Linked DNA regions of Homo sapiens. The protein of the gene in region 1 purifies or fractionates together with the protein of each later gene. This does not show direct contact. Each region holds a gene or a part of one and is shown in the gene's direction. Other genes may lie near its edges. The genes, in order: SLC39A8, LEMD2, ERGIC2 and ST7L.

Region 1 (6,876 bases):
CTCCCCTCCACACAGACACTGCTATACTCCACCTAACGACTTCCAGGCTGGATGGCAAGGAAGAGAAGGGAAGAAGAGAAAGGGGTGTGTCATCTTTTAGATTTCCTTATTAGTCCTTCCACAGAGAAAATGCATGCATGAAAATGTTTACAAGAGGCCAGTTTGCTTTATATTTGCGATAGTCACAAAAGATCTGAACTGAGAAAAAACTGAAATCATTAGAGAAAGTAAGATTTGAAGTTAACTGTCCTTTCACTTGGGGAAGTGAAGTCTTATTTCTTTTTTAGGGGTTTCATGTTTTGTTCTGATAAGTGACTTCCAAATTAGACACTTAGAAATAAAAAGGCTGGAATGGAGACTTGATATTCTTCTGTCCCAATTATCTTGTTTTACAGACAAGGGAATTCATCCTGGTGAGGTCAAATGAGTTTCCCAGGTTTCCCAAGTGCCTGAGTCAGAAACGTGACATTTTTCAACATCCTGGCCAGTGTACTTGGCATGCTACCCTCATTATCATTTAAAAGTATTCGACCTTTAAGGCAAATTTCTAAGAAAAATATATTTTATACATTATACATTATATTTTAAATGGGAAGTGTTTTTCTTTTGTAATAATATGACTTATAGAATTTGGACCCTAAAATTTATCTGGCTAGGTGCAGTGGCACAGGCCTGTAATCCCAGCTGTTGAGGAGGCTGAGGTGGGAGGATCACTCGAGCCCAGGAGCTCTGGGATGTAGTGGGCTGTGCCAGTCACTAAGTTTGGCATCAATATGATGACCTTCAGATGTGGGGTGGTGGTGACTGGGGACCACCAGGTTGTCTGAGGAGGTGTGAACTGGCTCAGGTCTGAATGGAGTAGGTCAAAACTCCGTGGTGGTCAATAGTTGGATTGTGCCTGTGAATAGCCACTGCGTCCTAGCTTGAGCAACATAGTGAGATCCTGCCTCTTAAAAAATAAATAAATAAATAAATGAAACATTATTTGGTTATGAGTTGATTTGAAATGCTTGGGACCAGAAGTGTTTCAAATTTGGATTATTAAAGATTTCTGAATATTTACATATATATAAAATGAGATATTTTGGGGATGGGACCCAAGTCTAAACACAAAATTCATTTATGTTTCATATACACCCTATAAACATAGGCTGAAAGTAATTCTATATAATATTTCCAATAATTTTGTGCACCTGTCAAATGAGGTCAGGTGTAGAATTTTCCATTGGTGTCATTTCAGCACTCAAAAAGTTTCATATTTTGCAGTATTTTGGATTTGGAATTTTTGAATTAGAGATGCCTAACCTGTAGTTCTTTGGTGATTATAGTTTATTAGACTGGATGATCTAGAAATTAGCCTTACCTATTTGGTAGTTAGTAACCTGAAATTTTCTGAACACTTTCTCTTAATTGCATTATGTTAACTGGGCTTAGTAAAGTTGGCATGCAGGTTGGTCATTTATTTTACTGTTTCTTATTTTGTGGACTTGATGGGCTGGCGAAATGTATGTGCATAGACATGAATGACTGATAAATAGATAAATTATATATTCTAAAAATCCCACAATGTAAGATTTGTATTTGTATTTGTATTATTTTCTTTTTTGAGGCAGAGTCTCACTCTGTCACCCAGGTTGGAGTGCAGTGTCCTGATCTTGGCTCACTGCAACCTCTGTCTCCTAGGTTCAAGCGATTTTCATGCCTCAGCCTCCCGAGTAGCAAGGATTACAAGCGTGCGCCACCATGCCTGGCTAATTTTTGTACTTTTAGTAGACACAGGGTTTTTACATGTTGGCCAGGTTGGTCTGAACTCCTGATCTCAAGCTATCTGCCCACCTTATTCTCCCAAAGTGCTGAGATTACAGGCGTGAGCCACAGTGCCCAGCCAAGATTTGTATTTTTAAAAACCTTTTATATTTGTTAAAATCTAACACTTTATGGACAAATTTAGTTTTAGAAAAGCTGGAAATAAACAACTTGCTGGGTATAGATTAGCCATTTAGAGCATTCATTAATTTCCAAAAATCATTTTGCATCACGGAGGTCCAAAGGAAAAATAGGCAACAAACTATATTTTAAAATCCAATGAAAGGCTTGAAGAGTCCCACGAGCTGAGTGATTTAAGAGGACAACTGTGATATTAACTTACTTCTGGCCCTTAGATGAAATATTTGCCCTTTTAGCATCAACATAATTCTGTAAATTATTATTAACAAATACGTAGATTTTATAATTGGAAAGAGCACAGTATTAAGATCATTTAGTTCATCTCCCTTCAGGCATGAATCCTCCTACCACCTACTAAAGGCGGTCACCCAGGATCTGTTGATTTGAATCACTTTTGATCATGGAGAAATCACTATCTTCCAAGGCAGCCATGCCTTATAATTCCACAGAAACCTTCCTCTGGGTGACTTTGCCCCATGACTGCTGCCTTCTGTCCTCTGAAGTTAGATATAATATAGTTAAACCTTCTTCCATATGACAATCCTTCAGCTTCGTCTGCCTAGATCCTTAGCCTCTGGGAATGTTCTCTACCTGTCTCTTTCTTCTGCAGTTATGTCTTTAGGTTCCTCTTCTAAGATTAAGATTTTTTCCCTTTCCCCATCTTTTCCCCTTTGTCTAGACTTAATGTCTCTTTAAAATGTGCTATTTTAGGAGGCTGTGCATTCTCCTGATGAAAGGCAAGAACGGCATCTTGTATTCTTTTTATTGTCCTTAGTCACGTGAATGCAAAATGTCTGAGACAGGTCTCAGTCAATTTAGAAAGTTTATTTTGGCAAGGTTAAGGATGTGCCCCTGACACAGCCTCAGGAAGTCCTGAGACATGTGCCCAAGGTGGTCGGGGGTACAGTTTGCTTTTATATATTTTAGAGAGACATGAGACATCAATCAATATGTGTAAGATGTACATTGGTTCAGTCCAGTAAGGTGAGACAATTGGAAGTGGGGGCTTCCAGGTTAGAAGTATAATAGACAAGAGACAAAAGGTTGCATTCTTTTGAGGCCATGATCAGCCTTCCACTCAATAGACAGTTTAGTCTGGCCCAGTGAATCTGCATTTTTTGCATAAACGATGGAGAAGAGAAAGCAATCAGATATGCATTTGTCTCAGGTGAGCCTCAGAGGGATGAATTTGAATAGAATGGCAGGCAGGTTTGCCCTAAGCTGGTCCCTTCTTGATGTTTCCCTTTAGCTTGGTGATTTTGAAGTCTCAAGATTTATTTTCCTTTCACAGCCATCTAACAGTGAAGCATGGTTTCACTTTACACTTGAACCACTATATCCACCAGATACAAACTTTGCCTCAAACACCACACTCACTTTACACAAACCTGTTGACATCACACCTAAGTCAGCTTTTCTTGAGCTCCCATATGAACAAATAAACATTCCTCTGATCTGCGGATATCCCGCCAGGAAGGGCCGGCTTGGGCAGTGCTGGCTCAGCTAGCCCGCCACCGCTACCATTGGATTTCCTCTTTCTCCTCTGATTTTAAGAAGTGAGAAAAAAAAGCAATTCCTGTTAATTATGTAGACAATGCAAGGGTCTCCAGGCTCCATTTCAGCAAGTTGGTTTCATCAAGATCACGAAAAGATGCATGCGTCCCCGAGACCAGAGAGGAGTTAGGGACCCCGACACGGAGGTGGCATCAGGTAACCCTCAGGAGTGAGGGTGGGGAAGAGGGCATGGCTGATGCTGGGAATGAGCAGCGCCCGCGGAGGGAAGGCCGGCGGTCCTGCGCCCCGGCGTGGACGCGCGCGGGAGTTCAGGCTGGGGAAATGGGTCACCACGTGCTACGGAGGCGGGGACAGGGCCCTCCTCCCCTTATTTGTAAAGAGCGCCGGAGCGGATCGCGGAGTTTCACCGCGGACCTGTCAGAGATACAGAGGTTGTGGGGGCGGGAGACAGAAAGAGAGAGAGATCCAGAGACCGAGTCTTACGTTGACACGCAGAGAGAAAGACGCAGAGACAGACAAACAAACAGATAGGAGAGGTGAGAGGCCAGCGAGTGCTTCCGATTAACTTGCCAAGCTCAGAGAAGATCCGGGGAGAGGGAGGGTCCCCTTTAAACGCGCAATCCCCAGGACTCCGGAAGAGCCCTTTTCTGCAGCTCCTTGGGGACTGCACGTCTCACTTCTAAGTTTGCGGCGGAGAGAATAAAGCAGAAAGACAGGAAGAGGAGGTGGAGTTCTACAGTTAGTGTGGTTTTAGTTTTTCCTAAGAAGTGGCGTGGTTTGGGGCTTTATATCCGGGAGGAGCATATGTACGCAAATCCTGGGGCGTTTGCAAACCCGGATCCGGGGCGTCTGGCCCCATGCCCGGCCGGGCGTTTGAGGGCTACTGCCACGCAGCGTTTCTGGAGCCTGCCGGCTGGTGCCCTGGTGGCCTTTATCTCTGTCCCCCTTTGTCCTCTTTATCTCAGGCTCTCCAGGAGGCCGGGGGGCCCACTCCGCCTATCGCTCCCCTCGGCTACGCTGCCACTTCAATGCCCCGCAGGTCGCGAGCTGCTGTTCTTTCGAAGGCGTCGGAGAACCAGGGGCGTCCCGCGCCACCTCTGACTCGGAGCAGCGCCGAGCACTGACGCTCCCGCCCTTGGGCAAGGACGCCAGTGCGCCCGCGCGCGTCCCTCTGCGCGGCAGCCCGTCGCGGGCCCTCAAGGGGAAGCCCAGGCCAGGATGGCCCCGGGTCGCGCGGTGGCCGGGCTCCTGTTGCTGGCGGCCGCCGGCCTCGGAGGAGTGGCGGAGGGGCCAGGGCTAGCCTTCAGCGAGGATGTGCTGAGCGTGTTCGGCGCGAATCTGAGCCTGTCGGCGGCGCAGCTCCAGCACTTGCTGGAGCAGATGGGAGCCGCCTCCCGCGTGGGCGTCCCGGAGCCTGGCCAGCTGCACTTCAACCAGGTAAGGCCGCCAGGTCCGGGCAGCCCTCCGTACTGTGGGTGTCCCTAGACTTCACTTTGTATATGAGCCGTTTTTATTTGGGAAAAGTGCAGGAGAAAGAATCTTGTTATATTTCTCAAGTAGAAGGCGGTATCTGGTGACACTTGCTTTTCACTAGACGAGGCTGAAGGATTAAAAGGTTAACGTTGTTAAGGGATTTGGCAGCCGGAAACTGCAGTTTTACGCCTGATGAACTGAGAGGTCCGACTCTGGTGATTTTAACATTTTATAGAAAACTTTATGAAGTAGTTGAGGGTGTGACGCCACTTTAACAGATGCTTTTTAGATAGGAATGAGTTACTTAAATCTTGCCAGAAAGATAACGGCTCGCACACTTCCTACAAGGTTAGCAAGGAAGATTATCACATGCCACCCTGGTTAACAGTTGCCCGGTGCGTAACCAGTGCTATTTGAAAACGAGATATAATGTAGTTCTGGCTCCTGTGTACATTACATGAGGCATTCAGGGCTGAAACAGGGGCGGCCTTGAGACTAAGATTCTAATTTGGTCATCCAGATGGTGGTAGACTAGGCTTATATTGTTAGTTCCTTGTCATATGTCAGGTCAAATATTTGATTCTAGTATTTATCCAAAATGATTAAAAAAATTTTTTCAGTAATAAACAGGGTACTACTAGGCATTTGGCAATACCTTGGGTTTAAGAACAAGCTTCAAACTACGTAGGAGCAGTTAAACATCATACCTCTTTGTAAACATAAAATCAAATTATTCCTAATTATTTCTATAATAAATACTCTGTGATTGGGTAGTTCTTAAAATTGTTAAGTAGACAAAGTGTAGTTTCTGCATCCTTCCAAAACTGCTCTCCGTCTTTTAAAACTCAGTTAACTCAGTGCTTTGACTTGTTTTCCTTTACTCCTGTCCCACTGACAGCTGATATTGGAGGGTAGAATACGGTATTTTCCATATCGTTTGTCATTTTTGGACGATGTTAGTTTGTTACAAGAAGTTTTTGGGGTCCAAGATGTTTGGGAAATGCTGCATATTATACTCTGCTCTTGGAAATTTGGCGTTTCCTAATGAATATGACTTTAGATTACAGTTAGGGAAACTGTAATCAAATAAATTCCATGTTAATAACATTATACGTAGATTGATCTTTTTGTTAGAAATATCTTACCACAATTAAAGTATATGGCTCTTAAGAAAAGTAGAACTTTCTGATGCCATGGCATGTCAGAGGTGGTCTCTCTTTGATCTAGAAGGGTTTTGTGGTCCCCTTATGCATGTTCTTTAGTAAATTGTCTATAATTCCAGTTCTGGGCATGGTATTTTATCTGGGGTAATATCTGAGAAATGATGTGTTGGAAAAATGGAAATGCCCACAAATTATGCTAATATTTAAGAAAATAAAGTGTTTGCTGGCTAGTTGCATTCTTTTCTTATCAAATAGGGGAAACAACTGAGCTGACTCCAGTATTTCCAGGTAGGTATGGTCACGTGCTTGGAAAGAAGTTTAGAGGATTGACTTGAAGCTGCATATCTGTAGCCCACACATTGTTTTGACTTGCATGACCTCCTTATCTTGCAGTGTCTGGAGGTGTTGATGAATTTTAAAGGGGCAAAAGACCTCCCCACATCACCTTTGCAAAGACATTGGAAAACATGCCTAAATTATTTAGGAAAATTGGTTAAGTGTACCAGTAATACGATTCTCTGTTTATTAGCAGGCAGGATGTCTCAATAGGTAAAATTATATGTATCTTGACACCTGTTTTCTCATTCTCATGTTTGCATATTTAACTGCCCTCATTATGGCCTCTGTGGGCATCAAAAAGAGACAGGAAGAAGCCCATAATTACCTTGGAAAGAAAAGGAAGCCAAGGAAAATTTACCACTTAATAAGCCTAACAAACATCTCTTTGATGTTCTTGCTTTTTTTTTGAGACTGAGTTTTACTCTTGTTGCTCAGGCTG
Region 2 (7,000 bases), on another chromosome or scaffold:
GGGAAGGCAGCCTGGAGGGTGGCAGAGCCGCTCAGGATGACCATATTGAAAGTGGGTCCTGAGAAATCAGGACACTTGGGATGCCAGCCATTCCAGCATGCAGCCTCAAGAGCATGATATTCTCGCCCTGGGTCACCTAGCTGGAAGAAGGCTCTGGTGTCCCCACCTCTGCAGGTCCTGACACCTCCTGGCCAGAGACCATGGTGGAGGCGCCGTGGCTGGGGTCTGGCCTCGGAGAGCCTGGTGGTTTTCATTCCCCATGAGCCTCACGGATTCCCCATGAGCCTCATGGATGCCCCATGATCTTTACACTTAAACAGCTTATGTGCCTCCTTGTCACCGAGGAAAAGTGCAACCTCCCAGATTCTGTCTTTCAGTTCTTGCCATGCAATTGCAAAGCTAGTGATTCAGTAAACATTTCCATTTCTCTATGCTGGGAGGTGGGAATCCAATTTACAGTTTAATCTCCTGCATGCTGAGAGAGGCTGTCAAAGACCTGACAGGGGGACGTTGCTTTAGCGGTAGGGGTTCAAGCCTGCTGCCGTCTTTAAAGCTTTATTCATTCTAAGTAGCCAATGTGGGAAATTTCTGGAAAGAATGCAGCCAGGATACCAAGCCTATTCTATAAGCAAGTAGAGGCCTTGCGTCCCCACTTTCCTTCGCTTCCTCCTGTTTGAAGTGGGGCTTGCACTGCCTCTCCTTGGAGCTTTCCAACATGTTCAGAGCCCTGTGTCCTGTTTCAGGTTGAAAGGAGAAGACCAGTCTGAATTGGTGACGACTGTGGACAAGGTGGTCTGCCTGGAATCTGCCCACCCCCGCATGGGTGTTGGCTGCCGCCTGAGCCGGGCCTTGCTCACTGCTGTCACCAACGTGCTCATCTTCTTCTGGTGTAAGTCCTCGGCCGCCTTCCCTCCCCTTCTGTGCAGTCAAGCATACTCCTAGGCATGAATGATGAGCTATAGAAATTCCAGGCCCGGAGGGTTCATTTCTGTCTAGTGAACCTGAGGTCTGTCTCATAAAACAGAGGAGATGAACAAGTCAGCCTCTGCCCTGGGTTGTATTTACCTTTGGAGATTGGTGGCAGGAATCCGTGAGGATAACTAGAAAATGTCCTTGATTCAGGGCAGGGGACTGTCAGATTTCCTGAGCGGGAGCCTGGCCTGAGCAGGAGCTGGGCCCCACCCCTTCTGGGCTCTGCAGGGATCCCAGTGTGGACCAGCTTCGAGCAGGAGGCACAGCAGGGGCTTGGCCTACTTTTACTCCCTGAAAAATATAAACATCTCCTGGAGAGCTACAGATACCTGATGAAAGCAAGAAGGACTCAGGGTGCTGCACTGAAAGGAGGGCACCAGTCTTATCCCCTGACATCGGGGGCCGCCTTTGAGCAGAGACCTCAGGGCGTCTCTGAAGGCGAAAGGCCAAGTCACAGAAACCACGGCTTTCCAGAGATAGTTGGAGCTACAAATCACAGACCGCCTCAGTGTGCACACAGCTCCCTCCCCTGTGCCATCAGGCACAGAAATCATTATCGGCAGCAGCATCTCGGAATACAAAGGGCCCCGGCATGTATATATGTATGAAACACTGTGTTCTGGTTCACAAGGGAGGAGATGAAAGCCCCAGAATGAGGTTGGGAGGAGCCGAGATCTGGACGGCTGGGGATGCCGCTGTGGTGACAGCCGGTGGGAGGAAGATGATCACTTAATAATCTGTCGTCCCTCTGCATTTCTGTATCTTTTGTTTCTCGCATGCTGGCCCTGAGCCTGACACATAGTAGGTACCCAAACCCATGTGGTGGATCCCCCACAGCATCCATCACAGCATCTTGTCCATGGTGAGACCCACTGCCAAATGAAGTGTGAGGGATTAACAGTGTTTTGTTCCCTCACAGGCTTGGCTTTTTTGTGGGGGCTCCTAATTCTCCTAAAATATCGGTGGCGAAAGTTAGAAGAGGAGGAACAAGCCATGTATGAGATGGTGAAGAAGATTATAGGTGCGTGGCCCCCTGGTGAATAAAGGGTTGCCGACGCCAGCCAGAGGGTCCTTGCCCTAAATGGTGTGCTCTCTCCTGCAGACGTGGTCCAGGACCATTACGTGGACTGGGAGCAGGACATGGAGCGCTATCCATATGTAGGCATCCTGCACGTGCGCGACAGCTTGATCCCTCCACAGAGCCGGTGAGTCCCTGGCTGGGGCGCTGGGTGTGAGGTAAGATGGGGTCCGACCCCACTGAGCTCCCCAGAAGGAAACCCAGAGCCTTGCATCAGATGTCAGCTGAGGGCAGTGCAGACCCCAGGGCCAAGAGTGGCTCTGCTCCCACTCCTGCTGCTCCCCAGCATGCTCGGCTCTTTATGGCAGGATGAGCTAGAAAAGACATATGAAAGCACAATCCCACACCTCTGTAGAGAGAACACTGGCAGTGGTGATACCAGTTAGGAGGCCTTGGGCTCCAAGTAATAGCAGCTCCCTCCCCCAGGGCACAAGTAGTGAAGGATCTCCTCAGTCTCTGTAAGTGGAAGTTCAGAGCTGCATGGGCTCCAGGCACAGAACAGTCAGGTCTCCGGTTCCATTGCTCTTGTGATTCTCGTGGTCCCACACTCCTCCATGGATGTTATCAACAGACTGGGGTCCCTCATGGTTGCAGATGGTGGCCAACAGCAGCTGGGGCACTGTCTGCCTTGTCACAGCCAGCAGGGGAAAAGTAGGCCTATTGTTGTCTTATAAGCAAGAGAACATGTTCCCAGTAGCCTCCAGTGACACACTCCTTGAGGCTTTATTGACCAGAATCTCTTACATGTCTGTTTATGAATCAGTCACTGGCAAGGAGGAGGAAATTGTTTTTCAAACTTTTTAAACCATGACCTGCAGTCAAAAACACCTGTTACCTGCAACATCATGGTCCAGTTCCCACACACGCATGCGTACACTCATGCATATACATGTAATTGAAAGCAAAGTTTCACAACATGAATGGGGTCAGCTTCCAGGGCACATAGCTTCATGGGAAGGGGTGGCAGGGCCACTGTCATGTGCAGCTGCAGGGCACCTTCCACATGGGCTGTGACTGCTGGAGTTGTACACTGGGGTCCTGACAGAACCAGGGTGGGGGAGGGCAGAGTCCCAGGAGACAGCCAGCAGGGCCCCCCCCAGTGTTGGCTCTGGTTGTGGTCCCTCCCTAGCAGACACTTGCTGTGGTTTCTGGCCAGATGCTGTCATCTGCTGGGTGATGCTGAGAGCTCACCCTTGCTGAGTGCTCCCTGGGAGCCGGGCACTACTTGGAGCTCTCCACAGATGCAAACTCACTCACTTGGTCCTCACCATGGTTCACGCACACAACAGAAGTGGCCCCATTTTACCTATAAGGGAACTGAGGCACAGGGAAGTAGAGGAATGTGCTCAAGAGTCCCATGGCTAGTGGCATTTCCGTGCTCCCGCCACCAGGCTCTACTGTCAACATCATCCCTATCTGCAACCCAAGAGGAATCAGAAAAATAGAGCCGTTAGCAGTCCACTTTAAGTCAGGCACAGTGGCTCACACCTGTAATCCCAGCATTTTGGGAGGCCAAAGTGGGAGGATTGCTTGAGCCCATGAGTTCAAGACCAGCCTGGACAACATAGCAAAACCCCATCTCTACAAAAAATAGATATTAGTGGGCATGGTGACACATGCCTGTAGTCCCAGCTACTCAGGAGGCTGAGGCAGGAGGATCACTCGAGCCCAGGAGGTCGAGGCAACAGTGAGCTATAACTATGCCACTGCACATCAGCCTGGACAACAGAGCAAGACCCTATCTCTTAAAAAAATAAAAAAAAGGTCCATCTTAAACATGAAGGTGCTTGTTGCCTGTCATGCTCACCTCACCCCTGGAAAGGTGGCAGGCAGGAAGTTTAGAGTGAGCAGACTCACAGCAGCATGGGCTGTGCTTGCTCTGAGGAGCGCTTGCTGTTGGTTTCAGCGTGAGGCCCTCTACCTCCCAGGGAGGGTGACTTGGGGTACTCAAACTCCCACCCAATTCCTGGCCCTGGCAGGAGTATCGTGACAATGAGCATCTCAGTCAACCTGTGCCACAGTTTCCTTATCCTAAAATGCAGGTGATCCCGCTGCCTTGCACAGGGCTGTGACGAAGAGACTATCATTCATTCATTCATTCATTCATTCAGTTCCTCCACAAATGTTTATTGAGCACCTACTACATGCCAGACACCCTACTGGGTCACAGGGAGACAGCAGGAAGTGGAAGAAACAAAAATCCCTGTCCAGCTGGAGCATTTGTTCTCAGGAAGGAGACAGATGACAAGATGCATAAGGAAAAGATGTGATATTAGGTAGTGACAAGCCCTAAGGGAAGGGGGGTTGGTATCAGGGTGGTGGCCTCAAAGTTCATTAAGTCACTGCCTAGTAGCCAGGCACGGTGGCTCATGCCTGTAATCTCAGTACTTTGGGAGGCCAAGGTGGGTGGGCCACCTCAGGTCAGGAGTTCGAGACCAGCCTGGGCAACATAGTGAAACCCCATCTTTACTAAAAATACAAAAATTAGCCGGGCATGGTGGCATGCACCTGTAATCCCAGCTACTCAGGAGGCTGAGGCATGAGAATCACTTGAACCCAAGAGGTGGAGGTTGCAGTAAGCCGAGATCATGCCATTGCACACCAGCCCGGGTGACAGAGCGAGACCCTGTCTCAAAAAAAAAAAAAAAAATGGGAGACCAAGGCGGGCAGATCACAAGGTCAGGAGTTTGAGACCAGCCTGGCCAATGTGGTGAAACCCCGTCTCTACTAAAAATACAAAAATTAGCCGGGCATGGTGGCAGTCACCTGTAGTCCCAGCTACTCGGGAGGCTGAGTCAGGAGAATCACTTGAACCCGGGAGGCGGAAGTTGCAGTGAGCTGAGATCACACCACTGCACTCCAGCCTGGGTGACACAGTGAGACTCCATCTCAAAAAAAAAAAAAAAAAAAAAGTCAGTGCCTAGCACGTGGGCATCATCCAAGGGTAGCCATTATGCCTTGGGCTTAAATGATATTCCACACACATATTTGCTTAAATAAGAGCATGAGACGGCACTGCAGCTTGCCTGCAGCCGGAGCTACCACCCAAGCCTTCGTGCATTAGCATAGATACCCAGAGCTGCTGCCACTCAGGTAGCCGGCCCTCAGGGTCAGAGCCATGTGAACCCCAGACGCCCATGCTCTGTTTGCTCTCTTGACTTACCTCCCAAGCCACCCAGTCAGTCCAGGCCAAGCTCCCCACGTCAGGAGACATTGGCTAGCCAGTCAGGTCTGCCCTGTAGATGAGGGCCTGCTTGGGAAAGACTGAGGGAGATGAGAAGAACTGGCCTGGGAAGGAGGGGCTGGAGTGAGACACTGCCCACTCAACACTGGCCGCTTCCTGCTCAGGGACCCAGCACCTTGGAGCTCAGTCCCCAGGGAATGTGTGGCCTCGGCCAGACCAGCCAAGTTGGGGCTGCTGAATAGGCCCATGGGGTTTGGTTGGTGACAGGTCCTGACCCCTGGGGAAGCCCTAGCCCCCCCCCCGCCTCCTGACTCACTGGCCACCTCCGTTTGTCCTCCCCTTCTGCTCCCATGCGTACACACTCACAGTCACTGTCTTTCCACGTGTGGTGTCATGGGGAGGTGGGCTGCAGTGATGAGAAAAGGCTGGGGGCTGTGCAATACCATGCTTCACAAAGGGAGAAGATCAAAGTGACCCTCCCCCATGGCTTTGGAACCTTCTTGTCCAGTCTGGAAGGGGGGAAGAAGAGATGAGGGGAAGGCTGTCCAGGGGGGTGCAAGGCCCTAGAGACCCAGCAGAGAAGGGACTCTGGCCACTGAAGGGGCCCTCCGTTGTGGCTCTGGTTCCCTAGAGCAGCTCCAGCTTCTTGGCCTCCCCCGTCTGATGCTTAGCTCATCCCATCCCCTGGAGTGCTGTGGAGCTTAGATGAAACAGCCCAGTGCTCACTCTTCAATGAGCCCACCCAGAGCAGCATCAAGATGCAGTTGGCGGGGTACTGGAACTGGCTTGGCAAGGGCTGCGCAGGCAACAGGTCCCAGCAAGAGTCAGCTAGCCTAGCACAGCCCTGCACACCTGGAGACCTGGGGGTGCTCCAGACACCTCGGCCCTTTAGCTCCCTTTAATTGAATGTGTTTGGATCAGTGAAGGTTGAGGAATCATTTCTCTATGGCCCAAGACGTTTTTCTCCTCTGCAGTTGTCATGTTAGTACCTGCCAGCTTTTCCTCTCTTACATAAATTCCATGCCAGAGCCTGGAAATGTGTGCCCTTTGTAGGAGGGGCATCCACAGGCTGGCTCACCTCGGCAGTGCCAGGCAGAGCCCCGTCCCTCTCATTGCAGGAGGCGCATGAAGCGTGTCTGGGACCGAGCTGTGGAGTTCCTGGCCTCCAACGAATCCCGGATCCAGACGGAGTCCCACCGCGTTGCAGGAGAGGACATGCTGGTGTGGAGATGGACTAAGCCCTCTTCCTTCTCTGACTCAGAGCGATAAGCCCCGGGCGGGGACTTGTTCCCGGTCAGCCTGTCCCAGGACAGCCCACTCCAGAGGCACAGGAGGGTCACCAGGCCTGCGGTGCTGAATTCACACTTGCCTTGACTTTCAGTCTCGTCCTGACACGATTCCAAAGGTCTGCCATACTCTTCAGAGGAGTTCGGCTCGCAGGAAAATGTGGGCTTCCTTTAAAGGGAGGGGGAGAAGCCAGGGTGATAGCCCAGACTCTGCCCTGTTGTGCTGGCAGAAACGGGGAGAAGGGTTGAGTTTTCATGAATAGAAAACAAGAGCAGCAGCTGTCAGGCCCAGCTGACAAGCGTGGGGCTGGTGGGCTGGGGCATGGCCACGCCAGGGAGTCTGTCACCTGGGAGGTGGGGCAGGGATGGTGTTTCGGGTGGCGGGATGGGGAGCAGCTTGGTCCATGTGCCTTCAGGGGGTTGTTACTTGAGAGCTCCAGGGTGAAGGGAGAAAGCCTGTGCTCTGGCTGGCTGGGCCTC
Region 3 (7,036 bases), on another chromosome or scaffold:
GTGTCTTCACATGGCCTTCTTAAAAGGACACCAGTCTCAGATTTTGGAGCACCCTGATCCAGTATGATCTCATCTTAATTAGTTATATCTGAAAGACTCAAATATTTCCAAATAAGGCCCATTCATAGATACCAGAGGTTGAGACTTCAACATATCTTGTTCAACGTATCAAATTGTGAGTTGACACAGTTCAGACTGCAACTTGGCCATATGTATTAACCAATTAAATTTTTCTCATATTGCCAAATATGTATTAAAAATAGAAGTTAACTCAAAACTTGGGTAGCAGGAAATAACTTTTGTCTTCATTTTTCTTTGGAGAATTAAACTTAACTGAGCAGACTATAAAAAGTTCATGAATTCTGTATTTTAATTTTGGTAAAGCATTTAATAGTCTCATTATATTCAGATGGATACAATGATGAAATATAGGCTGTGTGACTTTACTTACAGTGAGTGTTGATAATGTCTGTGTTCCAACCTGAAAGGGAGTCTCTTATGTCTTAGGAAGTTTTTCAAAATACAGTCACCCCTCCATATCTGTGGATTCTGCATCTGTGGACTCAACCAGTTGCAGATTGAAAATATTCAAGAAGGAAAAATTGCATGCCTACTGAACAAGTATTGTGTCTGTACTGAATACTTACAGACTTCTTTCTTTTCATTATTTCCTAAACAGTACAACTATTTACATAGCATTTACATTATATTAGGTTTTATAAGTAGTCTAAAGATCATTTAAAGTATACAAGAGGATGTGCATAGGTTATATGCAAAAACTACACCATTTTATGTCAGTGACTTGAGCATCTGAGAATTTTGATATCCAAGGGAGGTCCTGGAACCAATACCCCATGGATACTGAGGGACAACTGTCTTGTCTTAGCTCCAGCTGTTATCAGTGACTTTCTGGAGTTTATTTATGTTTGTTTTGTTTTTTAATATTCAAGACAGTTTAAGGAGAGACATCAAAGAAAACAGACATAGTACTGGAGATTGTCAAGGTATGAATAGCAGCACCAACCAGTGGGCAAAGGAATCTTGTGTAACGGCTTCTAACTAGATTTTGTGGACCAATACAAGAAAATGTATATCTATTTGAGAGGGGCGGGCCGTGTGGACAGGGAAAAGGGCTGGGTATAAAAACTGACCTAGAATTACATTTTTTAATTTTGCTGAATAAAGACATCCAAAAACAAAACAACCTCTGTTATATCTGTTTTTATCATTTCATAAAGGAAAGGCTGTTTTGACAAAATGGAATAAAATAATCTCAGAATAAAGGACACATTTTAAAATGGAATAAATTTAGCTTTAAAAGTTCTTTTCTACGTTGTCCATGACTAGAAAATTTTGTCACAGAATAGCAATGACTTCTGGCAAGCATTGATGATCTGAGGTATTTCCAAACACATTTTTGAAAATGGCTTACCACACTGAGTAGAGAGGCAAATAGAGTGGGAATGGAGCAATGAAATTGGGTATCTGGTAGGATTTAAAGGATTTGAGAACACCAGTGAAAATGAAGAGCAGATTTATCTTAGGAAAGAGCTTGAAGGGTAGTTCCTACTTGGGGAGGTAAATGTGTTTTGGATTTTAGAGGTGGAACAGTTTTAAGGGTTGACCTTGCTCATGGGTGGCTTTCCATAGAATTAAGATGGAGGTCACAGGAGGAGAAGCGCTGTTAAGCTTACATGGTAAAAAGGTTTTATTGTGAATGAATGCTATAGGATAAATGCCATCAGAGCATGAATTCCAAAGGATGATAATGGAGTGGGGGAGAAGCATATTGAATGATCTGGGTGCTGAAGTCATTAAGCAAATTATGAATATATTCAGATGTTAGTGGAATATAGCAACAAGTACGGAAGTGAGAATCAGTGTGTACTGTGGTTTGGAGCATAGTTTCAAGTTCTACCACCTGCTATGTAGCCTGGGAAAATTATTTGACAGTTCTGTGCCTCATTTCCTCATCAAAAAGTAGGATTAAAAATAGTACCTGCTGCTTCATAGAGTCATTTACAAGATTAAATGAATTAATGTTTAAAGAGCTTCAAATAATACATAGCACAAAACATGAGAGATGGTTGAGAAATATGGTAAAACATGATACTTCTGTAACCTGTGAGTCTCAGAAATGACTAAGGATTGGAATGGAACTGCTGCCAATAGAAAGTCAGGTTTTATAAAGAGAGCAGACAGCAATTTCTTTTAGAAAAGCTAGAAGTTATTGGATACCTTGTTTATGCCAGACAGTGACTTTTACAGTAGGTTGGCAAGTATGCAAAATGGAATGAATTTCTTGGAGGTAGGTTAGTGCTGAGCTTTCAGGAATGGGACTGGTGGAGTAGCTGAGGGGCGAGGTGCTCCATTCTAGAGTGATATCCCCTGGAAAACAGGGATGGAGGAAGCTAGAGATGGGTAGGGAGCCACATGATATATTCCAGCTAGACTTTCAAGGGAGGAGTGTTGAATAGGTTGTATGTATTATTAGGAGATTTGTAAAACTAACTGCTTGCCGTATCTTTATGCTTATATATAAATTAAAAGAGCATTTAGAAAGCTCATTATACAAATATAACATTTATATAAACTTTTAGAAATGTAATTCACTGTTTTATTCATTTGTTTAACAGTGCTATACTGACTATGTGATGGCCACTGTTCTAGGTCCTGGGACAGTAGACAACAGGAAAATCCTTCTTGTGGATCTTATTTTTATATATTTACTTACCTAAGTATGACATACTGCTGTGATTTGAAAGATGTGCTACTGTGGTGTTTCTGGGAAAATTTCCTTCCTTCCTTTTCTCAATAAATATTGAATACCTGTTCGCTAGGCATTGGAGATACAAAGATCAAGTTAGACATGGTTCCTGCTCTAACAATCCGGTGGAGGAAACAGAAAAAGAGGCAATTAGAAATAGTGTGATAAAGGTACAACGTTCTAGAAGCAGATAGACTTTGAAGGCCATGGAAAGTTTTTTTGTTCCCCCTGCTTGCTCAAGGTAGAGATGAGTAGACTGGACCTTGAAGAGTAAGTAGGAGTTAGTCAAATGTAGAGATGCGGTAGGGGGAAGAAAAAATATTTCTGGCAAAGAGAATAGGATATTTAAGGAATTGAAAGTGATTTAATATGGTTGGAACGTAGACTGTGAGTGATTGGGTTTGAAGAGAGGTTAGCAGGACCTGGTTTTTGAAGGGCTTTGTAAAACATGTTAGGATAGAATCCAAGCTCTTAAGTGTAGTGGGAAGGGAAGTTTTACAAAGATTTGAAGAGAAATATCAGATTTATGTATTAAAAAGATAATTTATTATTACAGTATAGAGAGAGAATTGGAAGGTTGAAGATTAGAGGTTGTTGAAGCAATGTAGTGATAGATTGTGGCAGTTGGGACTAGGAACATACTTGGACATAAGGAATTTCTCAGTAGGCCTGAAGAAGAGAAGACAGGCAGATTTAAGAGAAATTTAGAAATAGCTTAAGTCTAAAGATATAACCCATGTTTCTGGCTTGTGTAGTTGGGCTTATGGTGTTATCATTAAGATAGATACAGGAGGAACAATTTTTACAGGGTGAAGTATTCATTTTTGGACTTGTTGAGTCTGAATTGTGTTTGGAATGTCCAAATGAAAAGGTAACAGAAGGCAAGGGGTTATACATATCTGCAGAGAGATCTGGGCAGAGAATCAAGATTTGGGATAAATCAACATGCAGATTGAAATGGAAGGAGTGGGCGATCATTTGGGGAAGGTGTGGAGGTTAAGGGGGAGACCTAGTGCAGAATCTTGAGAGAAAGATGAATTTGCACAGTAAGCCAAAGAGGGTTTTCCAGGTAGAATGAAAATTGGGGATGTGATATCACTTAAGTCAAGGTAAGAGAATGTTTCGAGAAGAAAAAGAAGTGATAAGCAGTGTGTTTTCTCAGAGGTGCAGTTAGATAAGGACTGAGGAGTGTCTGTCAGTACTAAGGAAGTTAATTACCTTGCTCAGAGCAAATTTAGTTAAGAGGTGAGAGTTGGGTGAGGAAGTAGTCACAGTAGATGAATGGGGACAACTCATTCTTTTAAGTTGGCTGTAGGTGTGCTGCGAGAGATGTATTGTTGGAGTTGGACTTGAGTTTAAGGGAGAGTTCTGTTTTAAAGAGAAGAGACATACAGATATTTAATATTTTACTCAAATCAGAAAGAGTAGAAATTGAAAGATTGAAAAAGGGTCAGTTTTTGTGCAGTTACTACTAAAAAGGTACAGAAAATAAATTTGATTATCAGAGCTAAACAAGTTTAGCGGGCATGGCATATACATAACAAACATTCAGAAGCTTAATTTATCGATGGGAATACCAGTTTTATAACTGACGTGGGGGTCAGAAAACTGTCATCTGTTTTGTCTATGACATCTATTTTTTTCTTTCGAATACTAAGTGCATGGGAAAAAAATCATAATTCGAAGGCTGCTTTGTGAGTGTGGAACCAGCAAGGGAAGTTTAGTTGGTTGATTTTAATGGCAGAGGAAATCAATGTATTAATGCTTTCAACTCTACTGTAGAGTAGTAGCTCCCTGCTGGACTGATAAATAGTGCTCCTGGTCAGAGCTTCTTTCCTTTAGACAGTATTCATGTTTACTGCCAGTTTTTCATTCTCTGGCCCTTCTTTTTCTTTATGAATCTTCTTTCTTTTGCCTATTCTTTGTATATTAATCCTCCCCATTAGATTTCAGACCCAAAGTCTGTCTGCTCTCTTCCAGAGACATTATTTCTCTTATAGTGACTTCTGCAACTGTACGATTTATTCTATTATGTGTTGATTTTATTAATAAAGCCTTGATTACTGGGAATTCTTTATAATATTACCTATAGTATTATTTATAAATCAGTCATAAAAATTATGTAAATATCTAAGAATTCAGTTATTTGATTGGCTTTATAACATTTTTAGATGTAGATGACGTGCTGATAAATAGCAAGCAGCCAATTTTTAAATGTTTTGATTATAAAAATAGATAACATGGGAAATCTGAAGTTATATGTAAAGGCAATTAAAATTCATGATCTACTTTTAACATTTTTGTGTGTAGATGTTCAGTTTTGTTTCTTATGTATCTTTTCCTGTCTCCCATAAAGTTAGGATCCATGTGACCTTCTAGTCTTTTCTTATTGTATCAGTATCATGACTATTTTCTTATGTCATTAATTTTTTTTTTTTTAAATAAAAGAGTTTCAGGCCAGGTGTGGTGGTTCACATCTATAATCCCAGCACTTTTTTTGAGAGGCCGAGGTGGGTGGAAGGCTTCAGCCCAGGAGTTTGAGACCCAGCCTGGGCAACAAGGTGAAACTCCGTCTCTACAAAAAATACAAAAATTAGCTGGGGGTGGAGGTGCATGCCTATAGTCCTAGCTATTTGGGAGGCTGAGGCGAGGAGGATCGCTTGAGCCAGGGAGGCTGAGATTGTGGTGAGTTGAGATCACGCCACTGCACTCCAGCCTGGGTGACAGAGCAAGATCCTGTCTCAAAAAAAGAAAAAAAAAAGATTTTCAATGGCTACGTAAAGATGCTTCACCTTAATTTGTACATTGGATACAATGGATTTGTTTCTGTCTTCAGTATTTAAAAATAACACTGTGAGAAATATCCTCGTAATCAAATTTTGGTTAAAACCGCAGGTTATTGTCATAGGATAAATTCCTCAATGGGCATTTACTTAGAAGAGGAGTGGTGTGGTAAATGTCTTCTTCTTCTTTTTCTTCTTCTCCCTTCTCCCGCCTTTTCCCGCTTTCTCCCACCTTCTTTCTTCTTCTTCTTCTTCCATTATTATTATTATTATTATTTTTATTTTTATTTGAGATGGAGTCTCACTCTGTAACCCAGACTGCAGTGCAGTGGCATGATCTTGGCTTACTGCAACCTCCACCTTCCAGGTTCAAGCGATTCTCCTGCCTCAGCCTCCTAGGTAGCTGGGACTACAGGCACGTGCCACCACACCTGGCTAATTTTTTGTATTTTTAGTAGAGATGGGGTTTTCCCATGTTGGCCAGACTGGTTTCTCAAACTCCTGACCTCAGATGATCCACCCGCCTCGGCCTCCCAAAGTACTGGGATTACAGGCGTGAGCGACCGTGCCTGGCCTATATTCTTGTTAGTAATGTATGAGCAGGCCATTTTACTTCACTGTCATTCATTATTGGAAGTGTATTATTTTTATATAGTTTTCAATTTAATAGAAAACATTATCTTAATTTTTATATTTAGACATTATTCATGTGATTGAATTACTTTTCACTTTTTTTCTTGCTATATAATGTGTTTTTGTATTTAAATTGCCTTCCATTAGTAGTTTTTGTCAGGGCATGAATGGGGAAAGGAGTAGTGTGGATAAATACTATGCTTTTTATTTTTAAGGGGGGATGAGAATGTTAAGTTGTTTTAAGGACATTTGTCAGTTATCCTAAATTTAAAGAAACCTTTTTATCTCTTTAAAGGATTCATTTATTCATTAATTTATTTATTCCTTAGCATGACTATATGAAGGAAGAGGAAGGTTTTCCTGAAGATGAGGCGACTGAATCGGAAAAAAACTTTAAGTTTGGTAAAAGAGTTGGATGCCTTTCCGAAGGTTCCTGAGAGCTATGTAGAGACTTCAGCCAGTGGAGGTACAGGTGAGTATCAGTTAACATTAAAAGTTCTGTAGTAAGTACAACTTCTGCGTGATCCAGTCAACAACATATAGAAATGTAGCCATGAGGAAGAATTTATCAATGAATTCTGCCGTAACTTCGTAACTTGTCTGTCTTCATGCCACTCTGTTGGCTGTAATTCTTATTAATATTCTCTATAGCCTCCAACACAGTGCCATCTGTGCCTTTGGCAGTGTTTATTAAAACATTAATACATTAAACCAATGTTTCTGCTTTGCTGCCCTTTCCTAAATATGTGACCTTGAGGAAGTTATTCAAATCTATCTGTCTTAGTTTCTTCCATGAAATAGGGATCATACTAGTATTTACCTCCTAGGGGTTACTATACTATTAATATTTTCA
Region 4 (7,036 bases), on another chromosome or scaffold:
GAAACTTTGCCCTCTGATAAAATTCAGCTGGATGTTTTTTATTTATTAGACTCTGATCCCTTTAGGGGTTTAGCCCTTATTGCGAGCCCAGGGATTCTAATTTGGCTAAGCCCTAGCTGTGAAGACTTTTCTTACTAATTTGCCCTTGGTGAATTTTAGCTCTTGTAATACCACCTTTAAAAAACAAAAAACAAAAACTGCAGTAGAACATGCAGTTCAGAGAGTCCTGGATAACCTGAAAAGAGTCTTCTTTGAATGTTGGCTTATTGAATGGAAGGACTCCAATAGGGCCTGTCTTGATTTGTTTTCAAAGTTTAGATTTGTAAAGAGCCTCAGCAAATTAAAACATGGTTTTAATTGTCCTATAACATGCTAAAATATGGTAATGATTGTCCTATAACATATAACAGGTCTTTGCATTTCAAATTCATTGGGTACCTGTGAAGTATAAAATATAATCCCTGTTCATAAGTAACTCATAGTCTAGTGGTAGGGGGTTTGAGATGGGCATGAAGATGTATTAGTATAAGGTGGAAGCTATTGCCACAATAGATGAGTTCATCCTTGAATATTCATTTATTTGACTGGAAGGGAATGGTGAGTTATTTTCACACGGCTCCCGTAAGATATAGTGACCCAAAAGGTCAGTCTAGACTAATAGATTATGCTTCCTTTCAGAAGAATTTATTCGGTTAGGTCAAGCAAGAACATATAGAAAGAGATATCTTTATTCTTTTCCAAATATGTGATGTGGAGTACTTTCATCTTTATACTCAGCAGCTGGAATTCATCTTTTTGTAAGCAGTGTTATTTATTATAATGTTTATATGAATATAATTTATCAAAAAATGGAGAGCTCCACAATTCAAAATTTAAGAAATGTCTCACCTCAGATTCACAGAGTAATTGCCTTAGACAAAAGCTCTACACTCATACATTTTATATACCTCTTTTATATCCTCTCATTCCTAATAATGACAGATTAATAAGAACTAATAGCCATCCTGGTTTTCAGTATGAAACAATGTGATTTCATGTGAAGAAGAATAGAATAGTAAGAGTTAGGACCAAAATTACTTAGTTCTTTGGGCATGTGAGAGAATAGGAAAGAGCTACCCAGAATTTTCCAGAGCTCACTTGATAATGTCAAGAGCTGCAGCTGGCAGTCACTGATTCTGAAAATAGGCACACATCATGTTAATCAAAAAACTAAATAAAAGGATATTGGGATAAGGCACTAAAATAAAGTTCCTTTTGCCCTTTCTTTATAGCTGGGTTTTGCTGATCAATTCTGCATTTTTTGGCAATTCTACCTCTTTACAGGGAGAACCACCAGTATTATTTTCTCTTTAAGTAACTGAAAAAATATTTCCTATCTTTATTGAGCTGTCTCATTAAAGTAACAGACTAGCTGGATCACTGGGGATATGACTTTGGGATATATGTTTTAAAATAGGCACAGAGGCTGGGTGCGGTGGCTCACTCCTGTAATCCCAACACTTTGGGAGGCCGAGGTGGGTAGATCATCTGAGGTCAGGAGTTTGAGACCAGCCTGGCCAACATGGTGAAACCTTGTCTCTACTAAAAACACAAAAATTAGCCTGATGTGGTGGCAGGCGCCTGTAATCCCAGCTACTCAGGAGGCTGAGGCAGGAGAATTGCTTGAACCTGGGAGGCGAAGGTTGCAGTGAGCCAAGATCACGCCACTGCACTCCAGCCCTAGTGACAGAGCGAGAATCCATCTCAAAAAACAAACAAAAAGGCACAGAACCTCTCCTTGAGTTTATACAAATTAGGCATGTAATCAGTAAATATGGTAAAATATGGTAAAATGTAATCAGTAAATATGGTAAAATGGTAGAAGAGCAGGCCCAAGGCTAAATTCTAAACTACTCATGCAAATATTATAATAATACTAGAGAGTTGTAGAATGTACTGATTAAACTAGTGTTGCAGTAGAAGAAAGGAAGATAAACTATTTGAACAACAACTTGGAGGCAGAAAACTGGGGATTCGGCTTTGGAATTTACTTTATTGGTAATTATTACTTCTCTAGCTTGTCGCTCACTTCTCTGAGCTTGTCACACCTACTGGAATAAGCAGAAATTGTTATTCTTTGCCTAGGTTAACAAAATACACATCTCCAGATAGTAAGTTAGTTGCATGATGGCATCTTCTAATTCAGAGGTCTGATTTGTAGCATATTGGTAAGGAGGCACATTCATATTTCTGGGTGGTAGGGAGCCCACTTTCATCCATTCATCTGCATTCCTGTTCAAACTAGCAACTGTGTCTGCTAACATTAGGTTCCCAGAAAAAAGATGTAAGTAAACCCCAGTTCCACTGAGCTCCTGTGAAGGTACCACCTCCATAGAACTTGGTTGAAAATAATGAGCATAGTTACCTTTTTTTTTTTTTTTTTTTTTAACTTTTATCTTTTGGATGGCATTGAGAGTAACCTTCTGTTTTTTTGGCCTCAAGTTCCATATTGAATTTTTTAAAATTGCATTTTGAGCAATAACATTTCCCTGGTTGCTTAACCAGTTATACAAGTTGAGACTTCTGTCTCTATGCCTATCTTATAATAGCTTCTCTGGGAGAACAGATGAAAAATAAGCCAGTTAGATATTTTATGAGTATTGAAATCCTTTCCATTCAGAAATGTAAATAAAACAACCAGCATGAGCAATCAGCTTATGTCAGATTCCATGGGTTTGTATTACATAGGGAAATTACAGTGCAACCTGAAACATGCTTCTTAATGAATTCATAGTGCTGTCACAGTTGAATGTAAACCCTTGAGCTTTTCTTTTGTGAAGGGTTTCAGAAATCACCCTTTATAAACTACCTAGGGGAGGGAAGAGAACTAAGATGATACTAACAAATGCTATCACTGGTTTTGTGGCTGCCTCCCTTACAGCACCAAATTTTGCCAGTTAAGTAAAGCAGAAACCTAGAATATGGCACACGTTTTGGCTTATTCAGTGTACACACACACACAAACACACAAACACACACACACTCAGTGCCACACTGGGTCAGACCCATAGTTCAATACTCTGTTTCTGAAAGTGGCACCAGGGAACTGCTTTGGAAGAATAAGATTGCCCTTATGGTTTTTATCCTCAGAAGTTAGGGAAGTTTGGTTAAGAAGTATGACAAAAGCCCCATAAGTAGCGATTTTTACCTTTAGCAAATGCAGGAAAATAGACACCTAACTAGAGATCATGAAGTTAGAATTTGTCTCCTTCTTTGGCTGCTACTTCAGCCCCTGGTAGTAAATTAGAATAAAGTTCCTCATTTATTAGTGAGCTGGTTTTGCAGTCTCTAAAGCTCTTTTGCAGCTCTTCTATTCACTATGGCCTCAGATACGATAAATCTGCTAGCTGCAAAAATTCAATATACCAAGTAGAATATGTAGGACCAGTCAAGTTTTAAGTTTGGGAGTGAGGAAAAGCAGCATGTATTTTCTATTTTAAATTATTTTCTTTTCACATTCTAATTTCTTAAGGGTTTGGCTTGATTTATGCCAGGTTCTGGGCCTGTAAGCCTACATTAATGTATCACAGTACTGGATAGGATATTTGATATCTCTTACTTAGCCCAGAATCTCAAATGATAAGGAGCTGTAGTTAATGATATGTAGCATTTTGTTGAACTTTACAGTGTAGATCTCTGTTAGTCCCTGGGTCTGTAACAAATGGACTCATCCTTGTGCTTTTCCATAGGTGCCCTGATGTTTACTGACATAAATCAAGATACTATGTGGCTCTATAGGGGATGCTGAACCATTTGACAGTCTAGGTGCACACAGTCACCTCACATTATTTAAGCCCTGATCTCAGCATTCTAATTTCTCTGTATTCCCCAGTGTATATAATGTGTACTTGCTTGAAATTCCTTATATATTGCTTGTACATTCCTGCTTCTAAGTTTCAGCACATACCAGTTCCCTCTATTTAGAATGCCTTCTTCTGACTGCCCTCAGTCAGTTCATAAAACACATAAAGCTATCTTTTAAAAATTCAACTCAAAAGTCACCTCCTGTGGAATGCCATCTCTGCTTAATCTCATTAACCTAATTCCTTTATTCTCAGACTTCTGCTTCCTAGTCCATTAAACTGTTTCATTTTATTGTAATTGTTGCTTCTGTATATTGTCACCCAGTAAGCATAATTATTCTAGGAATGATCATCTTCCTCCAGCCTCTTGTGTCTACTTATTACACACAAATATTTTGAAGGCCTATTGATGACCTTTTCAGTTTCCCCAGAGTTCCAGTTCACCTTCCTTACTGTTTCCTTTTACTTCATAGTTACATTCCTAAAGAAGCAGCGCATGTGTTCAGGGTTGGCCTCCACCTCAGCATGTGTGTGGCAGCCTGCTGAATAGATCCCTACAATTGGGAAGGAGTTAACCCTCTAGCTTGACAATCTCTGCATTCTACTTAGACACCTTCAAGAAGTAGATGTGAGACCAGGAGTAGACCTGAAAATGGGAGTAGGTAAATTTCCACGGAAAGCCAAGTTAGCTTTTTCCTTCCTTTATACACAAGACCTATGAAGCTGCTGTCATCAGCAGCTCATTCAACACTCTCCTGCTCTGCCTCTTTTCCAGGAGTCAGGGTTAGTTTAAGAAAAAGCCTCTTGCAAGAAGCCATGACCTCGTACTTTTATCCCCTCCATCTGGTGTGTGGCCTCATGGGGCTGTGCTGCTATGCAGGAGGTGAGCAATGGAATTCTTTAGATGATGACTTCTGAGCCCACATGCAGAGGCAGTTGGGGGTGGGAAGCAGGGAGAACAGTGAGAGCCAAGATCGATGGACCAAAAAATAAAGTCTGCCTTGGGGAAGTCCTGACTATAGGTAGACTGTTTTCATGAGGTGTTCTTCTCCTAGCTCAAGTAGGGGCCCAGGTCAGGGAGCTGCAGCATCCCAGAGCTATGATTGATGAACATTGTACTTTTCCCTTCTGTCTTAACAGTTGGGGTGCAGGATTAGGATAGGTAGCCTATGCTGTCTCTAACAGAAAACATTACAGGATTGAACAGAAGAGTTCCCCTTGCATACGTCATCTTTTGGAGCTGCTCTTACTCACTGTCTTGCGCCTAAACAGAGGTCCAGATTTTGGATGGGAAAACAAAGAGGGGTTGAGAGCAGCAAGTGTTTGATCAAGTGAAAATCTGCTGTCTGCCTCATCTCATGGGTTTCTCTGCAGGATTGAGACCCCTTGCCTTGGTGTACACAAATTGCTTGCATCAGCTTGAGATCCCAGGACCTTTGCCAGGCCACGGGTAGGCATCTGTCTGGCTTGGGATGGGAGTTTCTTAGGACACTTATTCCCTCATCTTGCTTTCCTAACCCAGGAGTTGACGTCATTTTTAAAAGGAGTGAAATCTCAAAGAAAATTCTAATACATACCTTCTTTTTTTTTTTTTTTGTGACGGAGTCTCGCTCTGTCTCCCAGGCTGGAGTGCAGTGGTGCATCTTGGCTCACTGCAAGCTCTGCCTCCTGGGTTCACGCCATTCTCCTGCCTCAGCCTCCCCAGTAGCTGGGACTACAGGCGCCCGCCACCAGGCCCGGCTAATTTTTTTGTATTTTTAGTAGAGACAGGGTTTCACCGTGTTAGCCAGGATGGTCTCAATCTCCTGACCTCGTGATCTGCCCCACCTCGGCCTCCCAAAGTGCTGGGATTACAGGCATGAGCCACTGCACCCGGCCTCTGATACATATTTTCAAAGCCTTAATAATTTTCTGTCATGACTACTTCTACTGTGTCTATACATTTAGCATAATTTCAAAAGGACTAGATAAAATTTTTAATGTTAATCTGAAGGGGAAAAAAGGAGTAGAATTAGGAGCCAGAGTTGTTTAAATGTGGAATATGTTGTATAGTGGTCACATGGTACTGGTGGTAATAGTGGCAGAAATGGCAAAAGAGCCATTGGTTGATAAGGTTCAGGAGGGCCTAGGCTGTTCCTTTGTAAACTGTGCTCAGATATACTCTCTTGGCTGTCCTGGGACTCCTACAGGGCTTGAACATTTTGTATCAATTTCTGTTTTGAAGGTGCTGGGACTCTGGTGCCCCCAACCCTGGGCATCCTCAGGCTTTGAGGAGAATACACAGGATTTGAAGTCAGAAGACCTAGGTTTGAGTTCTGGCTGAGCCACGCACTGTTCATGTGACCTTGGACAAATCACCAAATTTTTCTGAACAGCATCTGTAAAGTGACAGTAACCCCTACCTCACAGGGTTGTTGTGAGGATTACATATATGCTAAAGCATTTTGCATATGAAAAAGCTTCTTATGAATATTGTTATTCCTAGGCAAACCCCCCTTGGAAGCTGTCAAAAAGGACAACTGTAGATGAAATTGTCTTCCTTTTTTCTTCATTCAGCTTAGCCTTTCTGTTTGGCCAGGGCTACTTACAGGGGCTGTTGGGGTTGAAGTCAAGTCACCGCATTTTGGCTCCTTTGGTCAAAGAGAAAGAACTCTAATGTCCAGCTGCTCCATCGATATACTCATAGAATGGAAGTGAGCAAAGGAAAATTTTAAGCCAGGATAGTTAACCGTTAGGGGGCCAGTGGGAGAATGCTTGCCTTGCATTTGCACATCCAGAATGACTAAAACATCTTAAGTAAATGAGGAATAGCCACCGAGATGCTCAGAGATAATATAAGCCATGAGTGGGAAGTGGGAAAATGAGTTTGTCAACGCCCTCTCTTTTCTATCCCTTTACCTTTGAGGTCAGGGACAGGGCATATTACTGACACCCCACTGGCTATTGCCCTATACCTGCCAATCACCCAAAGAAAATAATAGCTTCTGAGAAAGCTCAATTCACTGTAGCAACTGTGATATATTTACCCTAATAAAGCCACCACTTGGTCTTTTCCAGTGCTTCTCTCTTATGGAGATCATCCCTGGAATCCAAAGCTCTCCAGTTTTCTAACCCAGTTAAGAGTTAAAAACAACCACAGGTCATGAGCAGTAGGCTTGGCAGTTATACCCCATGCAGTCATAGGAGACTGCTCC

Evidence for each region.
Region 2: the proteins of SLC39A8 (region 1) and LEMD2 purify together in Homo sapiens (affinity purification with mass spectrometry; 3 studies listed by BioGRID and IntAct, with this or other methods). This does not show direct contact.
Region 3: the proteins of SLC39A8 (region 1) and ERGIC2 purify together in Homo sapiens (affinity purification with mass spectrometry; 3 studies listed by BioGRID and IntAct, with this or other methods). This does not show direct contact.
Region 4: the proteins of SLC39A8 (region 1) and ST7L purify together in Homo sapiens (affinity purification with mass spectrometry; 2 studies listed by BioGRID and IntAct, with this or other methods). This does not show direct contact.

What each region holds. Positions count from the first base shown.
Region 1 is NC_000004.12:102,342,467-102,349,342, reverse strand, and holds the start of SLC39A8 (metal cation symporter ZIP8 isoform a precursor), read left to right. Parts: upstream 1-3,860; 5' UTR 3,861-3,998; intron 3,999-4,089; exon of another isoform or gene 4,090-4,427; 5' UTR 4,428-4,680; coding exon 4,681-4,899; intron 4,900-6,876. UniProt on the Homo sapiens protein: Electroneutral divalent metal cation:bicarbonate symporter of the plasma membrane mediating the cellular uptake of zinc and manganese, two divalent metal cations important for development, tissue homeostasis and immunity.
Region 2 is NC_000006.12:33,772,131-33,779,130, reverse strand, and holds part of LEMD2 (LEM domain-containing protein 2), read left to right. Parts: intron 1-743; coding exon 744-889; intron 890-1,891; coding exon 1,892-1,993; intron 1,994-2,074; coding exon 2,075-2,177; intron 2,178-6,352; coding exon 6,353-6,503; 3' UTR 6,504-7,000. UniProt on the Homo sapiens protein: Nuclear lamina-associated inner nuclear membrane protein that is involved in nuclear structure organization, maintenance of nuclear envelope (NE) integrity and NE reformation after mitosis.
Region 3 is NC_000012.12:29,371,147-29,378,182, reverse strand, and holds part of ERGIC2 (endoplasmic reticulum-Golgi intermediate compartment protein 2), read left to right. Parts: intron 1-6,512; 5' UTR 6,513-6,549; coding exon 6,550-6,655; intron 6,656-7,036. UniProt on the Homo sapiens protein: Possible role in transport between endoplasmic reticulum and Golgi.
Region 4 is NC_000001.11:112,525,142-112,532,177, reverse strand, and holds part of ST7L (suppressor of tumorigenicity 7 protein-like), read left to right. Parts: intron 1-2,012; exon of another isoform or gene 2,013-6,066; coding exon 6,067-6,165; 3' UTR 6,166-7,036.